Linked DNA regions of Homo sapiens. The protein of the gene in region 1 purifies or fractionates together with the protein of each later gene. This does not show direct contact. Each region holds a gene or a part of one and is shown on either strand. Other genes may lie near its edges.

Region 1 (5,414 bases):
TAGTTCTAGTAGCCTTCTTTGCATATAGCTTCAGGATTTTCTATGTATAAAACCAGGTAGTATGCAAATGAAAACTTTAATTCCCCCTCCCCCAGTCTGTATCCTTTTTCCCTCCACACTTTAATGTCCTGACTAGGACATCTAATAGAATACTTACTTTATGTTGGGTCTCTGGAGGTCATTTTGTTATTTTTGAATCTCAAGTGTCCATTATCTGTCTTTTCATATGTGAACTACTTTATACCAGCAACTAAATTAAGTAATTTGTATAAGACATACTGCTTGTAAGTAAAAAGGAACTAACAAGCCACTGTGTTGTAAAAATCAAGTTTGTTGATTCAGTGTTGGCAATTCAATAACAGTAAGTTAAACCCAATAACCAAGTTGGCAATTACTATTCTCTGTCATGTATTTACAAAAACATTGTCAGTTTATCATAATGTGGCTGTTCGTTCCCAGTTTTGGTGTCAATAAATAACTTAAATAGAAGTTTTTAAATGTTGATTTAAAAAGAAGCAAATAAAATAGCCAAAATAGAAAAGTCAAAATAGGAAAATCTTAAATGTGTTCAATATACTAATGATCTTTTATTTCTTCCTTAGGTTAATGCCTTAGATAAGAAAACGTGTATCATTGTTCATTAGTTATTATAGAATAATAGTTACATCAACTTACATATCAATTGTGTTTATAAACAAGTAAATATTTTTACCAAAAAAAAAAAACAAAACCCACGGGGCGGTAAAATTTAGGTCTATTTCTTATTCATTATAGTATATTTAAAGCTATAATCATCATTTTTTTAGATAGAGATAGGGAAGCACCAGAGTATAGTTGAGGAACTTGGGTTCTGGAATCAAACTGCCTTGCTGAAAATCCTAGTTCTTTCACTAGCTGGCAGATGACCTTGGGCAAATTACTTACCTTTTCTGAACTTCATCTGTGAGTAAGGAAAATGCGCTTACCTCATAGCAATATTTTGTGACCATTAAGTGAGATAAATCATGTAAAGACCTTAGAGTAGAGCCTAGCACAAAGTAAGTGTTGAATAAATATAAGCATAAATTATCTAATGATTAACCTGAACTCCATAAAGTTTGTAGAACTATCTGACTGGTAATCTTTATTATGTCCACTATTGGTGAACATGTCATATGAGATAGTTTTATATCATTTTCTTAATATAGAGGAATAGGTCAGATATAAAAGCTAAAGCCAAATATACACATTAACATATATACGTACACAAAAATTGTTATATTTTGTTGAATGGATTGCACCTTGGGCCACATTATTTCTTCTATTATTTAACTCCTTAATTATGTGTTAAACTGTGAGTCTCACCTTTTTTGCAAAGATGTAGAGAAGGTATCAGTAATGGAATCTTTATATTCTGAAAATAAATATAACAGGTGGTTATGTTTTACTTGTGTTATTTCACTACCATCTTGAAAAGCATTCAGATAATTTTCCTTGAATATGGGGAATTTGTATTTTTTTAAATACGATATTCATTCAGTACTTCAATAGTTTTATGTAGATTTCCTTGGTCATTATATGGAGCCTCATTGTGTCCATGCAGATGCTAAAGCTATTCCTGACACTGTTTGGTGTTATCTTAATATTATTTAAGCAAAGAATGGTGATCAACTACAACTTAGCAATTTGTTACTTTTTAAACAGCTCTTTAAAATAAATGAAAAATTAAATGAGAAGTATTTATAATTAGAAAAGTACATAGATAAAAATTTGGAACCTACAGAATTTAGGAAATCAGCCTTTGCACAGGTAAGTAATTTTTGTGTGTTCACTGTTTCACATGGGTACATTGTTTCCCTTTTACAGCACCAGTGCATCAATGGCCAATGGCTTTGTCATGTGCCTCTACATTTTCCCAGCTATAATTTTCAGTTCCTCAAAATGCCATTCCTGAAGGTTCTGTGTATGTGTTTTCCTTAAATACCATTACATGTACATCCCTTAAGCCTGGTTCTCCATGACTTCAGCCCTGGCATTGGGTAATTCATTAATTCTTGTGAAACCTTGCCTTTAACTGCCTTCCAACCATCCCCAGTGCTCACCTCCAGCACACTTTAGACACATGCCTATTGTGTAATTGTTAGTATAGCTTTTTTCTTCACCCTGATCACAAACTCTTTGAGGGCAGGGACCATATCTTTTTTCTAGATGCCCAGAACCCACCATAGGGCCTCATATTTAGAAGTTCAGTAAAATGCTTCCATTGACCCTTTATGACCACAATAGTTTTACTCACTTTCACAAGGATTTGACACTGTGGTATGTAGTTAGTTCTCGCTTCATTCAAAAATTAATGAAACAGGGCTGGGCGCAGTGGCTTACGCCTGTAATCCCAGCACTTTGGGAGGCTGAGGTAGGTGAGCGCATCACCTGAGGTCAGGAGTTCTAGACCAGCCTGGCCAAAATGGCAAAACCTTGTCTCTACTAAAAATACAAAATTAGCAGGTCATGGTGGCGCATGCCTGTAATCCCAGCTACTTGGGAGGCTGAGGCAGGAGAAATCACTTGAACACGGGAGGCAGAGGTTGCAGTCAACTGGGATTGTACCACTGCACTCTAGCCTGGGCAACAGAGAGAGACTGTCTTAAAAAAAAAATTAATGAAACATAATGCTGCTCTAAAAAATGAATATTGGCTGGGCACAATGGCTCATTCCTGTATTCCCAGCACTTTGGGAGGCTGAGGCGGGTGGATCACCTGAGGTCAGGAGTTCGAGACCAGCCTGGCCAACATGGTGAAACCCCATCTCTACTAAAAATAAAAAATTAGCTGGGCATGGTGGCATGCGCCTGTAGTCCCAGCTATTCGGGAAGCTGAGGCAGGAAAATCTCTTGAACCCAGGAGGCGGAGGTTGCAGTGAGCCAAGCTTGCACCAGTGCACTCCAGCCTGGGAGAATGCAGTGAGCTGAGATCACACCACCGCACTCCAGCCTGGGTGACAGAGTGAGACTCCATCTTAAAAAAAAAAAAAAAAAAAAAGAATATTAACCTTAAATAAAGTTTAAAAAGTGGGAAAACATCACAATAAAAAGAAGTGCTAGTTATACATTGTTTACTTTTCTGCTACACTGTATTCCTTGAATTCTTAACAATTTTTGCCTTTGTTTTACAGGTGAAGCCTTGAAAGGAAAGGTCACAGTTCACAAGAATAAGAAAGATCCACGTTCTCTCACCGTGACCCTCACGTTGAATAATTCAACTCAAACTTATGGTCTCCAGTGAAACAGCCATAAAAGCACACTACCTTGTAGTTTTTAATGTGGGGGTAGAGTGGGTCAGCAGGAGGGAGCTGGTTTTATGTGAGCAGATGGATGGATGATGGACCCTTTCCTAATGAGCCTCCTCAATAAGAGAGAAGTTCTCATTGTGGGAATCTGACATAGTTCAGCTGAGGAAGAGAATCAGCTGATCCTCATGGTCTGCCACGTAATCATTTTCTTAGACGTTTGCTCCACCAGATTTAACCAAATGTAACTCCCACATTGAGTTTATCTATATTGAAAATCATTTACATTGGCCTATATTTGGAAGAGAGATAGTCTTTTGTTTTTAATAAGTTTCTTACTATAAATTTTAAACAAATTGGTTAGTTATTTGGATATTTTATTAAACTAGTAACACAGGTACTACACATTTTATTATGGACTCCTCTGAGGAGGAGTTTTTAATTGTATTTGCTAGAAAATCAGGATGTAATAAAGATTTGTATAAAAAAACTAAAATATGGAAAAGAGCTTCAGCCTTCATATACAAATCATATATGCAGACAGCCTAGTTGATTATCTAGCATACTTAGGGTTCTCATTTTGTAGTTTCTTCCCTCTTTGTGACTATTCCTTAGCCTTATAGATTTCTAGTACTGCCCAGGAAATCTAATTTCAATACATTTATCCTAGGTTTCATGAAAGTTTTTAAAGATTGGGATAAATATGTACTTATTTACTAACGTATTATCTTTTTCAAACCAGATTTATGTGCAAAGGTTAAACATGTAACTGTTACTAAGCAGTCTATAAAGTTGTCATTTACAATTACTGATTCAATTTGAAATGTAGAATAAAATTTTAATAAAATGTATCAACTTATAAAATATTTTAAAAATATTGATATTATAAAAGTTTTCAATAAAATATATCAAACAACATTATAAAATATTTCAACAGGGTATGGTAGCTCATACCTATAATCCCAGCATTTGGGAGGCCAAGGCAGGAAGATCACTTAAGCCCAGGAGTTTGAGAGCAGCCTAGGCAACACAGGTCTGTACAAAAAATTCTTTTAAAAAAATTAGCCAGGCATAGTGGTGCATGCCTGTAGTCCTAACTACTTGGGAAGCTGTGGTGAGCAGATTGCTTGAGTCCAGGAGTTGGAAACTACAGTAAGTCAAGATCGTGCCACTGCACTCCAGCCTGGGTAACAGAGAAAGACTCTGTCTCTAGAAAAGTTAATTAATTAAAAGTAAAAAACAGGGCCAGGCATGGTGGTTCATGCTTATAATCACAACACTTTGGGAGGCCAAGGCAGGAGGATTGTTTAAGGTCAGGAGTTCAAGGCCAGCCTGGGCAACATAGGGAGACTCCATCTTTACAAAAAATTAGCCAGGTGTGGCACACACCTGTAGTCCCGGCTACTCTGGAGGCTGAGGCAGGAGGATCCCTTGAGTCCAGGAGGTCAAGGCCACAATGAGATCACACCACTGCATTCCAGCCTGGGTGGCAGGGTTAGGCCTCATCATTCATTTATTCACTCATAAATAGATAAGTTTCAACATACTAAGGCCTTTTGTAAAATCAGAAGCATTTAAAACAAGTCTTAACAAAGGGATTATTTTTAAGAAAATAAGGCTTTTAAGGAGAGGCATTCCACATGCCTCTTTTAAGTTCAGCAGTTGGTTCTTTGTCAAAACAAGACATACACGAGGCAGCTTAGCATAGTGTTGACAAGCATGGAGCATAGTATTGAGAAGCATGATAGCTATGGAGTCAGTGCCTAGGTTCAAATCCTAGCTCCAGCTCTTACTTGCTGTATGATCTTAGTAGCTTTCCTTAACTTCTGTCTCCCTCCATGAACGTGCCAATTTATGAATTAATAAAGAATTTAGATCAGTACCTGGCACATAGAAAACTATTAGGTGATAGAATCATCATTATCCATTCAAGGACTCCCAAAGAATATATGGCACCTACATTAGATCAGTTTAAGAATTGTCACGTTCATCAGATAGTAATTATTGCCCTAGTACATGAATGCGTGAGAAAATTATGATGGGCATTAATATTTAAAGTGGCAAAATCTGTTTCAACAAGAAATTGTCTTTGGTCTCAGAAAACTGGCCTAGCAATGAGGAGGAAAAACCTCTTCAAATGTTGGTTTTA
Region 2 (4,456 bases), on another chromosome or scaffold:
AGCCGGGGAGGAGGCTACCAGGGAGAAGCACCTGGTATAATGCATTTAACCCAGAGTTCTTCAAGCATTTCTCATTGCTACTGAGCATGAATCTTGGTGAGGTGTTTATTCTCTGAGATCTGAGGATTTGAGCCATGAGGCACCCAACACTCAGGCTTTTCCCCTAATCTGTAGTCATTCTACAGAAACAATAGGACTGTGCCTAATTTAATAGAAAATAGATAGAAAGATATTGATGGCAAAGTGGATGAATTACATTTGGGGGAGATTTAGAGAGTAAGGAAGGAGAGTTTGAATAGTAACATGAAAGGACAGTAGGGCCAGTAAGATGTGACTTGTGGACATTTATTGTCTAAGTATGTTTTGAAGGAAGAAGGAAGTATGGGACAAGGCATTGAGGATGCAAGAAATGAAGTCACCTGGCTAAGAGAGGAAGGACTGGCTGAAGAGAGGAGAATAGAGTCTAGGGAGGAATGAGATCCAGCAAGAGATAGGGTCAGCTGGGGCATTTTCTTACCAGAGATCTGCAATCTCCTAAGACAGGTGTTCCCAACCCCTGGGCTGCAGACCAGTACCCATCCATGGCCTGTTAGGAATCGGGCTGCACAGCAGGAGGGGAGCAGTGGGCCAGTGAGCATTATGGCCTGAGCTCCGCCTCCTGTCAGATTAGCGGCAGCATTAGATTCTCATAGGAGTGGGAACCCTATTGTGAACTGCATGCAAAGGATCAAGGTTGCGTGCTCCTTATGAGAAAATAATGCCTGATGATCTGAGGTGGAACAGCTTCATCCCAAAACTATCCCCTCCACCCCATCTGTGGAAAAATTGCCTTCCACAAAGGTACCAAAAAGGTTGGGGACAGCTGGCCTAAGAAGAGTAGGAACTGAGACATCCTGCTGGAGGGACCATGGGGGTGGGAGGCAATGAACAACTGAAGAGAGATTTACATTTGTGGGGTTTCTAGAAAAAGACCAACAAATATGACTGCAAGAATGTTCTGGCAGCCCTGGGTCCTGTCCGGGTTGTTAAGCATTAATCCACAGGTTTGTAATGGTGAGTTTTCTGTGGTTCTGCACCTCGCTTTGGCAAAGTTCTTTGATTCTGGAACAGTAGTAGCTGCATAGAAAGTGGTGGCAGTGGGTGTGACCTTTAATTGAGAATTAGAATGTCAGGAGCTCCCAGGGTCAAGGAAATCATCATGAGTGGAGGAGTATTTGAAGCTACCCTCCTGTCATGGGGTCCAGGCTGGATGAGAGACTCAGTGGGCCTGGGCATGTTCTCATGAAGTTGGGAAGGTAGGTGCCTGAAGGATTCTGGTGTGGCTGAATGACAGGTTCTTTGGGTGTGGGACAGTGGGAGAGGCGACTAATAAGGAGGCTGTGGTCAGAGAGGGGAATGCAAATTTGTGGATGGGGTGAGAGCCATGACATGCTAAGTTCCAGGGTGTGCCCAGGATGGTATGCAGATGAAGTGTTTGTGCGGTGTCCTGACTGACAAAAATCATGTTCTGTGTGTTGGCCAGGAATAGTATTCAGCAATTAGGTTTATGACTAAGGGGAGTGTGTGTGTGTGTGTGTGTGTGTGTGTGTGTGTGTGTGTTTGTTGTGTGCATGCACATTGCATGTATAGTAGCCCTTACCTCTAAAAACAATTAAATAACATTTCTTTCCTTCTCATAAATATGCTCACAATTCTCATCAAAATGCTTATTAACATATTATATAAGATAATGGATCAGCAATAATGATCCGGAGGCTTTTGCTGTTGGGCCATTCATTTATTTGGTTCTTCGTTATACAGATTGTGGCTTTTCATGAATGGGCCTGTGTATGGCTCTGTCTTTCTGGATGTGTCCCTCTTAGCTCCATTCTATTTTATTAATTTCCCAAAGGGCAGGCACTATTTTATGTCCCTGCTACCCCCATAGCAATTCACACAGTTCTGTCTACCTAATCAATGTTTTCTGAATGAAAAGACCACAGTTGTTTTCCATCCTGACAACTTGTCTCCCCAAATAGGAAAGATGAGTATAGCAATGACATCAGCTAATACGGAGAATCTTGGAAGAGGGTTTTCTTCCAAGTGTACTTTAGTACATGGTGCTACAATGACATGTTCAGTCTCTGTTATCTTCAGAATGGGAAAACTCATTTCTCCTGCCTTCAAAAACATTCAAGTTTTCTCAATTGCCATCCCTTGTTTGCCTTTCTTTTCTTTCTGCCCTCATCCAATATTCCTCTTTCACTGTGATATCAAATTCCTTGGTCATGCAGTTATCATTTGTCTTTGACACTCTTCCCTTTTCTATGTGATGATCTTTTTCTTCCTTCTTTCTCTCCTTCTAATGGGGTTCTTCAGTTGGCCTTCCACTAAGAAGCTCTCTGAGAAGTCCAAGGAAAGCTGATAAACTTCAGCTCCTCTGAGAATACTTCCACTTTAACAGGTGATTTTAAAAAACAGAGATACATTCAAAAATAAAAAATAATAAAACTAGCAAGTAAGTGACAGGTAGTGGAGATTGTCCCTAAATTACTAGCATCTATCCATTTTCCCTATTCCTGCATGGGGACCTAACTGTAATTTTGGAGAAGGAATTGACTCAAGTTTCTCACCTATAAAGCGGTTATAATAATACCTGCCTCTTGGGGCTGTTTGTAGGGGCATAAATGATATAATTGACGTGAAAGTGCTTCCTAAACTACAAAGAGTTTTCCAACTCTTCCTCTACCTTCTAACACTGAATTGGAAATTGTGCCCTAAGGCTCACTCCTGCAAGAGAGGGCAGATAAGTGATAATTGGGGCTTTAACACCAGAGGAGCTGAACTGCCTCACAGTAATTATTCACCTGAAAGGAAGGAGGTTTGACCAGCAATCTCTAACATCTTTTCTGGTCCAAAACCTGTGATTATAAAAAAAGCACTTAATTGGATATTGTTTTATATTATGTTCCAGATATCTCGATTTTCCCAACTACCCTGTAAACTCCTAGAGGCCAGGGGCCATATCTTATAGACCTCATGTAGCTTCTATAATAATTAGCATAATGCTAGACACCTAGGAGATATACAAGAAATGCACCTACTATGAAATGATTCAGTGATATTCATTTCCTGTATTTATTTATTTATTTATTTTTTGAAACAGAGTCTCGCTTTGTTGGCCAGGCTGGAGTGCAGTGGCGTGATCATGGCTCACTGCATCCTCAACTTCCTGAGTGCAAGTGATTCTCTCACCTAAGCCTCCCAAGTAGCTGGGACTACAGGCGTGTACTACCTGGCTATTTTTTTGTATTTTGGAGGGGGTAGAGACAGGGTTTTGTCATGATGCCCTTGAACCACCCAGATCAAGCAATCTGCCCGCTTCTGCCTTCTAAAGTGCTGGGATTACAGCCGAGAGCCACCGCACCAGTCCTTCTAAGGAGTAAAAAATTTTATTTTGGCTGGGCGCGGTGGCTCACGCCTGTAATCCCAGCACTTTGGGAGGCCAAGGCGGGTGGATCATGAGGTCAGGAGATCGAGACCATCCTGGCTAACATGGTGAAACCCCGTCTCTACTAAAAAATACAAAAAATTAGCCAGGCATGGTGGCGGGCGCCTGTAGTCCCACCTACTCGGGGGGCTGAGGCAGGAGAATGGCGTGAACCCGGGAGGCGGAGCTTGCAGTGAGCCGAGACCGTGCCACCGCACTCCAGCCTGGGCGACAGAGCGAGATTCCGTCAAAAAAAAAATTAAATTTTAAATTTTTAATTTTTTTTTACTTTTTGAAATGGAGTCTCGCTCTGTCATCCAGGCTGGAGTGCAGTGGCACAGTCTCGGCTCACTCCAACCTCCACCTCCTGAGCTCAAGCAATTCTCCTGCCTCAGCCTCCTGAGTAGCTGGGACTACAGGCGCCCGTCACCACGCCCAGCTAATTTTCTAGTTTTAGTAGAAAACTAGAAAGTAGAAAGCTATGTTGGCCAGGCTGGTCTTGAACTCTTGACCTCAGGTGATCCGCCTGCCTTGGCCTCCTATATGGACTTAACTGTGAGGCTGGTGCTTCCACTGAGAAGACAAACTTACCACACTCTCTCCATTCAGTGTATTTCCGTTTCCTAACAAAGCTCCTCTGTGTTCTGCCACTGTGTGGTAGAGAGGGCAGGCAGTCAAACACTGGGGGTGAGCTAACTTCTTAACTAGGTGACTCTTTTTTTTTTTTTTTTTTTTGAGATGGAATCTTGTTCTGTGGCCCAGGCTGGAGTGCAATGTCATGATCTTGGCTCACTGTGGCCTCCGCCTCCCGGGTTCAAGTGATTCTCCTGCCTCAGCCTCTGGGTAGCTGGGATTACAGGCACCTGCCACCACGCCGGGCTAATTTTTGTATTTTTAGTAGAGACAGGGTTTCACCATGTTGGCCAGGCTGGTCTCGAACTCCTGACCTCATGTGATCTGCCCGCCTCAGCCTTCCAAAGTGCTGGG
Region 3 (4,456 bases), on another chromosome or scaffold:
ACCTCCACCTCCTGGGTTCAAGCAATTCTCTTGCCTCGGTTTCCCAAGTATATGGGACTACAGGCACGCACCAGCACGCCCAGCTAATTTTTGTATATTTTAGTAGAGATGGGGTTTCACTATATGTTAGCCAGGCTGGACTTGACCTCCTGACCTCAAGTGATCCGCCCGCCTTGGCCTCCCAAAGTGCTGAGATTACAGGCATGAGCCACTGCGTCCGGCCAAAATTGAGAACTATATGGCAGTTAGTTTAAGAAAGAAACTTAATAAACAGGGAAAAGTATTAGCCATTTATGACAAAGACATGATATTCCTAAAATCCATATTTTTGTTTTGTTGTTTATTTTGAGACAGAGTCTTGCTCTGTTGCCCAGGCTGGAGTGCAGTGGTGCGATCTCGACTCACAGCAGCCTCGATCTCCCAGCTCAAGCCATCCTCCCACCTTAACCTCCTGAGTTGCTGGGACTACAGGTGTGGGTCACCACGCCTGGCTAATTTTGTATTTTTTGTAGAGACGGAGTTTTGCCGCATTACCCAGGCTGATCTCCAACTCCTGGGCTTGAGCAATCTGCCCACCCCAGCCTCCGAAAATGCTGGGATTAACAGGTGTGATCCACTGCGCCCAGCTTCATGATTTTTAAAAAATGTCCCAGATTAGGTTGGCAGAGATGGGAAATTGCTGACACCTAGTGTTGGCAAAGATTGAGGAAAATAAGCTATCATGCTTTTTTTTCCCCCCACTCAGGTGATCTGCCTTCCTCGGCCTCCCAATGTGCTGGGATTACAGGCGTGTGCCACTGCGCCTGGCCCATATTAACTCTTATATAGCCATAGTCCTTCATGCTCCCCTCTTTGGGAAATTTTGTACCTCATTTGTACTAGGTAACTGCTTCAGAATTTTAAGAGGTACTCTGGTACGGTTACTACCCTATTTTTTAAAGGTAGATCTTGTGTAAATTCAGTGGGTGCCAAATAAACTATACTATATATAGTTCAAATTCCTTTACAATGAAATTTCTATAGAATTTTTTTTATGATTGACATATTTCCCAATAGTATTTGGTAAATTCTTACTTACATTTGGAAAGCATTTTCTTGATTTTGGGGTTTATTTTTCCCTAATTTATTTTTCTAGGTTCAAAAGCTGTCTAAGAATGAAGTGCTCATGGTGAACATAGGATCCCTGTCAACAGGAGGGAGAGTTAGTGCTGTCAAGGCCGATTTGGGTAAAATTGTTTTGACCAATCCAGTGTGCACAGAGGTAGGAGAAAAAATTGCCCTTAGCCGAAGAGTTGAAAAACACTGGCGGTAAGTTTGTTAGTCTTTGCCACTGTCTAATTAAAAAAAGACACAGTCTTGTACAGAAAAAAAAGCACACAATCTTCCTTGAGGACAACAGTTACTGTGGCTTTCAGTCTCAACTATTTATTTGGATGACTTTGAAAACTATACTTCGGCCGGGTGCGGTGGCTCACGCCTGTAATCCCAGCACTTTGGGAGGCCTAGGCGGGTGGATCATGAGGTCAGGAGATCAAGACCATCCTGGCTAACATGGTGAAACCCCGTCTCTACTAAAAAATACAAAAAATTAGCCGGGCGTGGTGGCGGGCGCCTGTAGTCCCAGCTACTCGGGAGGCTGAGGCAGGAGAATGGCGTGAACCTGGGAGTCGGAGCTTGCAGTGAGCCGAGATGGCGCCACTGCACTCCAGCCTGGGCGACAGAGCGAGACTCCGTCTCAGAAAAAACTACAACCTTGACTATAGTCCCATATTTTAGTCCAAATACTGTGATTGGCTTCTCTTCCTGTTAGACACAACCTATGCAAAACCAAATGAATTTGGGTTCGGTATTTCTATCGTCATTGGCTTTGGAAATCATTTCACACTTAATAGAAAAATTGTAAGAGTTTTACAGAAAACTCCTCTATAGCTTTTTCCTAGATTGACAAACACACATACAGATTTATTTACATATATAAGTTTTTTTCTGAACCATTTGAGTGTAGGCTATATATGTTATGCTTCTTGATCTCTTAATACTTCAGTGTATATTTCCCATCAAAAAAGGATATTCTTATGTAACCACTTAGAAATTTAACATTGGCAAAATACTGAAATCTACAGTGCATGTTTCAGTTTTATTACTTGTCCCAATAATGTACTTTATGTTCCTCCTGTTTAGAATCTTGAATTGCATTTAATTTCATGTCTCTTTGATCTTTAATCTGGAGCTTTTTCAGCCTTTGTCTTAATTGACATTAACAGTTCTGAAGAATACAAACTAGTTACTTTATAGAATATTCCTCAATTTGGGTTTTTCTTATCATTCGGAAGCCTAACATTAGATTCAGTTATATATTCTTAACTTAAATACACCGTGAAGTCTCCTTTTCAGGAATCACAGCTAGAGGCACATGATATCTGACTGCTCCTCTTTGTTAAGGTTAGTTTTGACTATGTAGTCAAGATGTTGTCCAGCTTCTCTGCTGTGTAGTTACTCTCTACCCTTGCAACTAATAAGCAATCTGTAGGGAGATCTTTCTAGCCAGTACAAATAGCCTGCTGATCATTGAATCCCACACCCCTGGATGTAGCATCCACTGATGATTCTTGCCTGAATCGAACTTGACTATAATGATTACAAAATCATAGCACCTCTACGGGTTGCAGTATCCTCCCTCAACTCTACCACCCCACATTTATCATTTGGCATTCTTTCTTTGCCATTATTTATTTCCCTATCTAGTTATAATATGGACTCATGGAGTCCTATTTTATTCAACATGTTATGATCCATCACTGTCTTCCTTTATTTTGATGTGCATTGTTCGACGTTTGGCCAGTGGAGGTCCTTCAGGCTGGCTCTTGTGTCCTTTTGACATGTACTCATCATTTTTTTTTCTTCTTCTTTTTTTTTTTTTTTTTTTTTGAGATGGAGTCTTGCTTTGTCGCCGGGGTAGAATGCAGTGGCATGATCTCAGCTCACTGCAACCTCTGCCTCCCAGGTTCAAGCAATTCTCCTGCCTCAGCCTCCCGAGTAGCTGGGACTACAGGCACACGCCACCACACCCGGCTAATTTTTGTATTTTCAGTAGAGACGGGGTTTCACCACGTTGGCCAGCCTGGTCTTTAACCCCCGACCTCAGGTGATCCGCCCTCCTTGGCCTCCCAAAGTGCTGGGATTACAGGCATGAGCCACCACGCCTGACCTCTTTCTTCTTTTTTTTGGAACATTTCCTTATTTTCTGGCACAAAATCTTCCAGACTCATCTTGTACCTTCTCTGTTCCAGTTTTAGAACTGGCCATTTCTCTTATAAATGAAAAGCTGAGTGTTCAGGTGTGCTCATGGCTCTTAGGGTGCTGTTGCTTCTAGGTCTTTTGAGAGCATAGAGCCAGGAAGCATACACACATTTTTGGCTCCTGACTTTTTGCTCTTTCCCAGGTTATTGAGTTTGCCCCTTGCTTTCCATTCCTCGTCACCTCATCACAGTCCATACCACCATCACTTTACACTTCACAGTTAGTGCGAAAGACTCCTAGTTTGCCTCTTAACTTGGTCAAAATTAGTCTTCTTAAAACATTTTCATCATGCTGTGTTTAATAATTTCTAGAGTCTTCTCACTACTTTTTGATATTTGGGACTTTTCTAGAAACCTGCTTCAACCCATTTAAGCTTTCCTTCTGCATTGTCTTATATAAACCCTCTAAATTAGACTGTTTTGTGCCCTAACTGTCCCCATAATTATTCACATCACCCCTACCCACTATCTACTTCCTTAATTATTTATTTTATATTTTTTAGAGGCAGGGTCTCTCTGTTGACCAGGCTGGAGTTTAGTGGCATGATCATAGCTCACTGCAGCCTCAGTGTCTAAGTAGCTAGGACTATTGGCTCACACCACCGTGATCAGCTAATTTTTTTGTTTTTTGTAGACACTTGGTCTCACTGTGTTGCCCAGCATGATCTCAAACTCCTGGCCTCAAGCCATCCTCCCACCTCAGCCTCTCAAAGTGTTGGGATTACAGACATGAGCCACCCCGCCCAGCCCTGTTTCCTTTATTAAGGCTTCCATGCTACTGTGCCCACGATGGTCTCATCACTTGTCCAGGAGATTTATCTGAATTATTGCCCTGTAATTTAGAAAGTTAAATTTTTGTTGTCTCTTAAGTAAATAATTATTTGTGGTGACTTATGCCCTTTTGATTTTACTGTCTTTTGTGATTATATTTTTTTGCTATTACAGACACACGACTTCCAGTGTATTTTGAAATAGATTTAAGCAATAAACTTTCAGTCCAGGCACGGTGGCTCATGCCTGTAAGCCCAGCACTTTGTGAGGCCGAGGTGGGCGGATCACTTGAGGCCAGGAGTTCGCAACCAGCCTGGCCGACATAGTGAAACCCCATCTCTACTAAAAATACCAAAAAATCAGCCGGGCATGGTGGCGCATGCCTG
Region 4 (4,456 bases), on another chromosome or scaffold:
TATTCATGGTCTCCAGCCTCAGCTGTTCCACATTCTCTCTGCTCCTGGTCAGTTCTTCAGTAGTGGCTATTTTAGAGCTTTTCCACGTTCTTCCTCAGAAAACCACTCTATCCCTGCTCCCTGCCTCTTGGCTGGTATGCTCACTACCTATTTTATTTTATAAAGAAAATAGAAACCATTGCACAAGAACTACTTTTCCACTGTCTCAACAAACTTACATATCTCTGTCCCACCTGTCATTTCTTCCTATGCTGCTGTCACTGGAATTTGTGTCCTAATTGCTCTCAAACTAGTCTTGCCACCTATGCCCAGCTGCTGCTCAGAGATCTCTATTAGTTACTTTTTCTCTTGGGTCACCTTTCCCTTTATTGCTTTTACTCCATCAGCATAAAAATATCTCTAGTTTCTTCCATTTATACTATAAAACCCACTTCTCAACTTTTCCTTTACTTTCTCTTGGAGCAAACACTGCGTCCTCTGCTTTTAACAGCCACACTTGGCTATGTGTGGTAGCTCATGCCTGTAATCCCAGCACTATGTAAGGCTGAGGTGGGAGGATTGCTTGAGGCCAGGAGTTGGAGACCATCCTGGGCAGCATAGCAAGACTGCCATCTCTAAAAAAAAAAAAAATTAAAAGTAGCCAGGTGTGGTAGCATTTGCCTGTAGTAGTCCCAGCAACTTGGGAGGCTGAGGCAGGAGGATCACTTGAGTCCAGTGGTTTGAGGTTTCTGTGAGCTGTGATTTGTGATTGCACCACTGCACTCTAGTCTGGATGACAGAGTGAGACCTTGTCTCTTAAAAAAAAAAAAAAAGCCAGACTCTTTCAGTTCTCTATACTTGCTGTCTCTTTACCTCCCACTCCTTCCTAAATGTTAAGAGTTAGAGGGGGGAAAAAAGAGAATGAGTAGGACCCAAGACCATTAAGAGTCCCCCAGAAAGCCAACTCATCTGGGGTTCCAAATCCCTTCAAGTTTATTCTCATGTGACTTTTTTTTTTTTTTTTTTTTTTTGGTATATCACGTGGTAGAAAAGGTGGGAATAGTAATAATGATAACTAACATTTATATAATTCTAACAACAACCTGTGGTATAAATGCTATTATTATCCTTTTCTTACAGTTGAAGAAACTGAAGCTGAGATTAAATAATTTGTTCAAGGTCACACAGCTAACAAATCATAGAGCCAGGCAGTATTCAAACGCGTGCATTCTGGCTCCATCCAGAGTTTGCACTATTAGCCATTAAACACAACTTTATATTTCTGTCCTGCAGTCCTCAGTACATTTCTTAACTTGTCTCAACTGTCATCATCTGGCTTCTTTAGTTACCTCTTTAACTTCTAGTTCCAGCAACCCCTTGTTACCACTAAACCTTGGCGTGTGTTATTCCCTTTTCCTTAGCACTCTTTTCTTGCTTCATTCATGTAGGGACTGTCCAGATTTAACTAATGCTAGTTCTTTGCATTTTTCTTTTAATTACATAAAATTTCTGACATAGTTGGAAACAATGTTTTACCTTTCCAGACCTATTTTCCTCACTTATCAGTGATAACCACTATTCTGAAATTATGTATCAATATCATTTGTTTTTATTGTTTTACTACATATGTGTCTATTATCATTTTTTATTTAAAATGTAACCTATTGTATCTTTTTGTAGCTTGCATTTTTACATATAAGCCTATTATTAAGCAGGATTCCCCCACAATGATAGATGTATACTTGATCCATATTAATCTCTATATAGTATTTCATTGTGAGAATATGCTTTATCTGTTCCTCTATTAAGAGTTGTTTAGGTAATTTTCCCTTCTGTGCCATTTGTCAAACAGGGCTGTGATGAATAGTGTATGTGTCTCTATATGTAGTTGTTTGAGAGTTTCTAATATATATGCCTAGGAGTGGAATTGTTGGGTCATAGGATTGATTATATATCTTTAAACTGACTTGGTTTCACCAAATCCTTGCCACAATTTGGTATATATCTGATTTTTTCTCCTTTTTCTAGTCTAATGAATTCACAGTAGTATCTTTTGATTTGCATACTCCTGATTGTTGGAGAGGTCAACAGTTTTTCATGTTTCTTAACCATTTGTATTTCTTCTGTGAAACATCTGTTCACCTCATTTGCCCATTTTCTGTTTATCATCTTGTTTCTTATACATTTATGTTGGTTGTCTTCTCGTTACTTTATGTTAGCTGAGTAAAAGTTCCCTCCACCCAAATTCTCTTGCCTTTTATTCCCAATAAGACCCCTTGCTTATTAAGCCTGATGCTTGCTCATGCTATTCCTTTTTTACATGACATAACTTTCTTTTTTTCTTTTTCTTTTTTTTTTTTTTTTTTGAGACGGAGTCTCGCTCTGTCGCCCAGGCTGGAGTGCAGTGGCGGGATCTCGGCTCACTGCAAGCTCCGCCTCCCGGGTTCACACCATTCTCCTGCCTCAGCCTCCCAAATAGCTGGGACTACAGGCGCCCGCCACTACGCCCGGCTAATTTTTTGTATTTTTAGTAGAGACGAGGTTTCACCGTTTTAGCCGGGATGGTCTCGATCTCCTGACCTCGTGATCCGCCCGCCTCGGCCTCCCAAAGTGTCTTTTTTTCTTTTTAATAGAGATGGAGGTCTTGCTATGTTGCCTAGACTGGTCTATGAACTCCTGGTCTCCAGTGATCCCCCTGCCTCAGCCTCCCAAAGTGCTGGGATTACAGGCATGAGTCACTGGTGCCCAGCCTTATGTATCATAACTTTTTTACAATAGTTCTACCTTTACTTTTTACAGTGCTACTCCTCTTTTAGTCTTTATTTCATATTTTCATTTGCTCACTCATTCAACAAACATGCCAGTTAATAAGACCCTGGTCCCTGTCCTGTGGCACTTAGGAGGGTCAGATGAAATGCTACTTTTTGCATGAAGCCCTTCCTGACCTCATTAACTGGAAGTAATACCTTTCTGTCCTGATGCCCACAGATGTACTGTTACATTTAAAAGTTTTTCCATGTTTTTTTTTTCTATTCAAGATAGATTATAAACTCCTTGAGGCAGGGACAGCTAATTGCATGGAAGTAATCAATTATAGTAGAATATCAGATGTGTTAGGCATTAAATTGCTTGTTTTAGTCAGATCACTAAAATTTTGATTTCACTAATAATCAGTTGGGGTGTAAGTGCAAAGCTAAGATTTGAATTCTAATTGTGACACTAAAGCCTTAACTATTATATGCATTAACTATTATATGCTTAACTATTATATGCATTGTTCCATAGTGTTTGGTTTCACATTTATCAGTAATATAACCTTGACCTTTTGTTATTTATTTATGTTTTTGACCAGAGACCCATCTATTTTGGATAGTTTAGATTTGAATGAAGATGAACGGGAAGTACTCATTAATAATATTAATAGGCGCTTGACCCCACAGGCTGTCAAAATTCGAGCAGGTAAATGATTTTTTAAATGATTTTTACAGTATTTTGCATGCATCAAAAAAGCTATTAAATAATGAGACTTACCAAAGAATATGTTGCTACATCAACATCTATAAATTTTTCTAAATGGTTGTTTTTTATAACAAAAGCTTAAGAAATTATTTTGGCTTCTGAATCATAAAATTTATATATTGACACAAGTAGAAACAGTCTTGTGAGTTCAGCTAACCTAAAGGTAGCCCTTTTTTTAAAAAGAGGGGTTTGATTGTTTTGTTTTAGTGCATACTTTAAAATATTCCAAATTTTTACAAAGATGAGACATACCATGCGGAATTTTCTCCAACTAGCCTTTTCCACCCAGTGTATCATAGGTACCCTTCCATTGCAGAACATAGGAATCTTTCTCATTCTTTTTTATGCTGGGTAATGTTTCATAGAACAGATAAACCTTAACATAAACCCGTCCCCTCCTGATGAACATTTAGGTTGTGCCAGTTTTCTCACAGTTACAAAAAAATGCTACAAATTAGCACCCTTATATTATACATACTTAACCATTTACACAAATGTTCTTCAAGACAAATTCCTAAAAGTAGAATTTCTGAGTCAAAGGGTAATGCAATTTCTAAACCGTTTTAGATAAGTTGCAGTTATTGTTATATTCCATCTTTACCACACTCCTCCTTGCCTCCCTTTTATAAATAAGGAACTGCAGTATAGAGAGGTTGGATTCAGTATAAGTATTTGAATACTAATATATCTGCCACGTGTTTGATTTCCTTTAAACTTTTAAATATTTTTTGCATTTTTTATCAACTTTTGAATTTTTGTAATTGTAGATATTGAAGTGGCTTGTTATGGTTATGAAGGCATTGATGCTGTAAAAGAAGCCCTAAGAGCAGGTTTGAATTGTTCTACAGAAAACATGCCCATTAAGGTGAGTCATGAGTTGTCTCCCTCCCTGCTGAAATGCTCACCTAAACCAAATAGGATCTTTGATCTTTGTTTCTTTTTTTTTTTTTAATCACAT

The links. The genes of interacting proteins can lie anywhere in the genome.
Region 2: the proteins of PRMT3 (region 1) and CSTA purify together in Homo sapiens (affinity purification with mass spectrometry; one large-scale study listed by BioGRID and IntAct). This does not show direct contact.
Region 3: the proteins of PRMT3 (region 1) and EIF2S3 purify together in Homo sapiens (affinity purification with mass spectrometry, with the first as the bait; one large-scale study listed by BioGRID). This does not show direct contact.
Region 4: the proteins of PRMT3 (region 1) and EIF2S1 purify together in Homo sapiens (affinity purification with mass spectrometry, with the first as the bait; one large-scale study listed by BioGRID). This does not show direct contact.

The regions. Positions count from the first base shown.
Region 1 is NC_000011.10:20,505,153-20,510,566, forward strand, and holds the end of PRMT3 (protein arginine N-methyltransferase 3), read left to right. Parts: intron 1-3,151; coding exon 3,152-3,261; 3' UTR 3,262-4,186; downstream 4,187-5,414. UniProt on the Homo sapiens protein: Protein-arginine N-methyltransferase that catalyzes both the monomethylation and asymmetric dimethylation of the guanidino nitrogens of arginine residues in target proteins, and therefore falls into the group of type I methyltransferases.
Region 2 is NC_000003.12:122,328,248-122,332,703, reverse strand, and holds part of CSTA (cystatin-A), read right to left. Parts: intron 1-4,456. UniProt on the Homo sapiens protein: This is an intracellular thiol proteinase inhibitor. Has an important role in desmosome-mediated cell-cell adhesion in the lower levels of the epidermis.
Region 3 is NC_000023.11:24,071,956-24,076,411, forward strand, and holds part of EIF2S3 (eukaryotic translation initiation factor 2 subunit 3), read left to right. Parts: intron 1-1,135; coding exon 1,136-1,308; intron 1,309-4,456. UniProt on the Homo sapiens protein: Member of the eIF2 complex that functions in the early steps of protein synthesis by forming a ternary complex with GTP and initiator tRNA.
Region 4 is NC_000014.9:67,377,328-67,381,783, forward strand, and holds part of EIF2S1 (eukaryotic translation initiation factor 2 subunit 1), read left to right. Parts: intron 1-3,331; coding exon 3,332-3,438; intron 3,439-4,265; coding exon 4,266-4,363; intron 4,364-4,456. UniProt on the Homo sapiens protein: Member of the eIF2 complex that functions in the early steps of protein synthesis by forming a ternary complex with GTP and initiator tRNA. This complex binds to a 40S ribosomal subunit, followed by mRNA binding to form a 43S pre-initiation complex (43S PIC).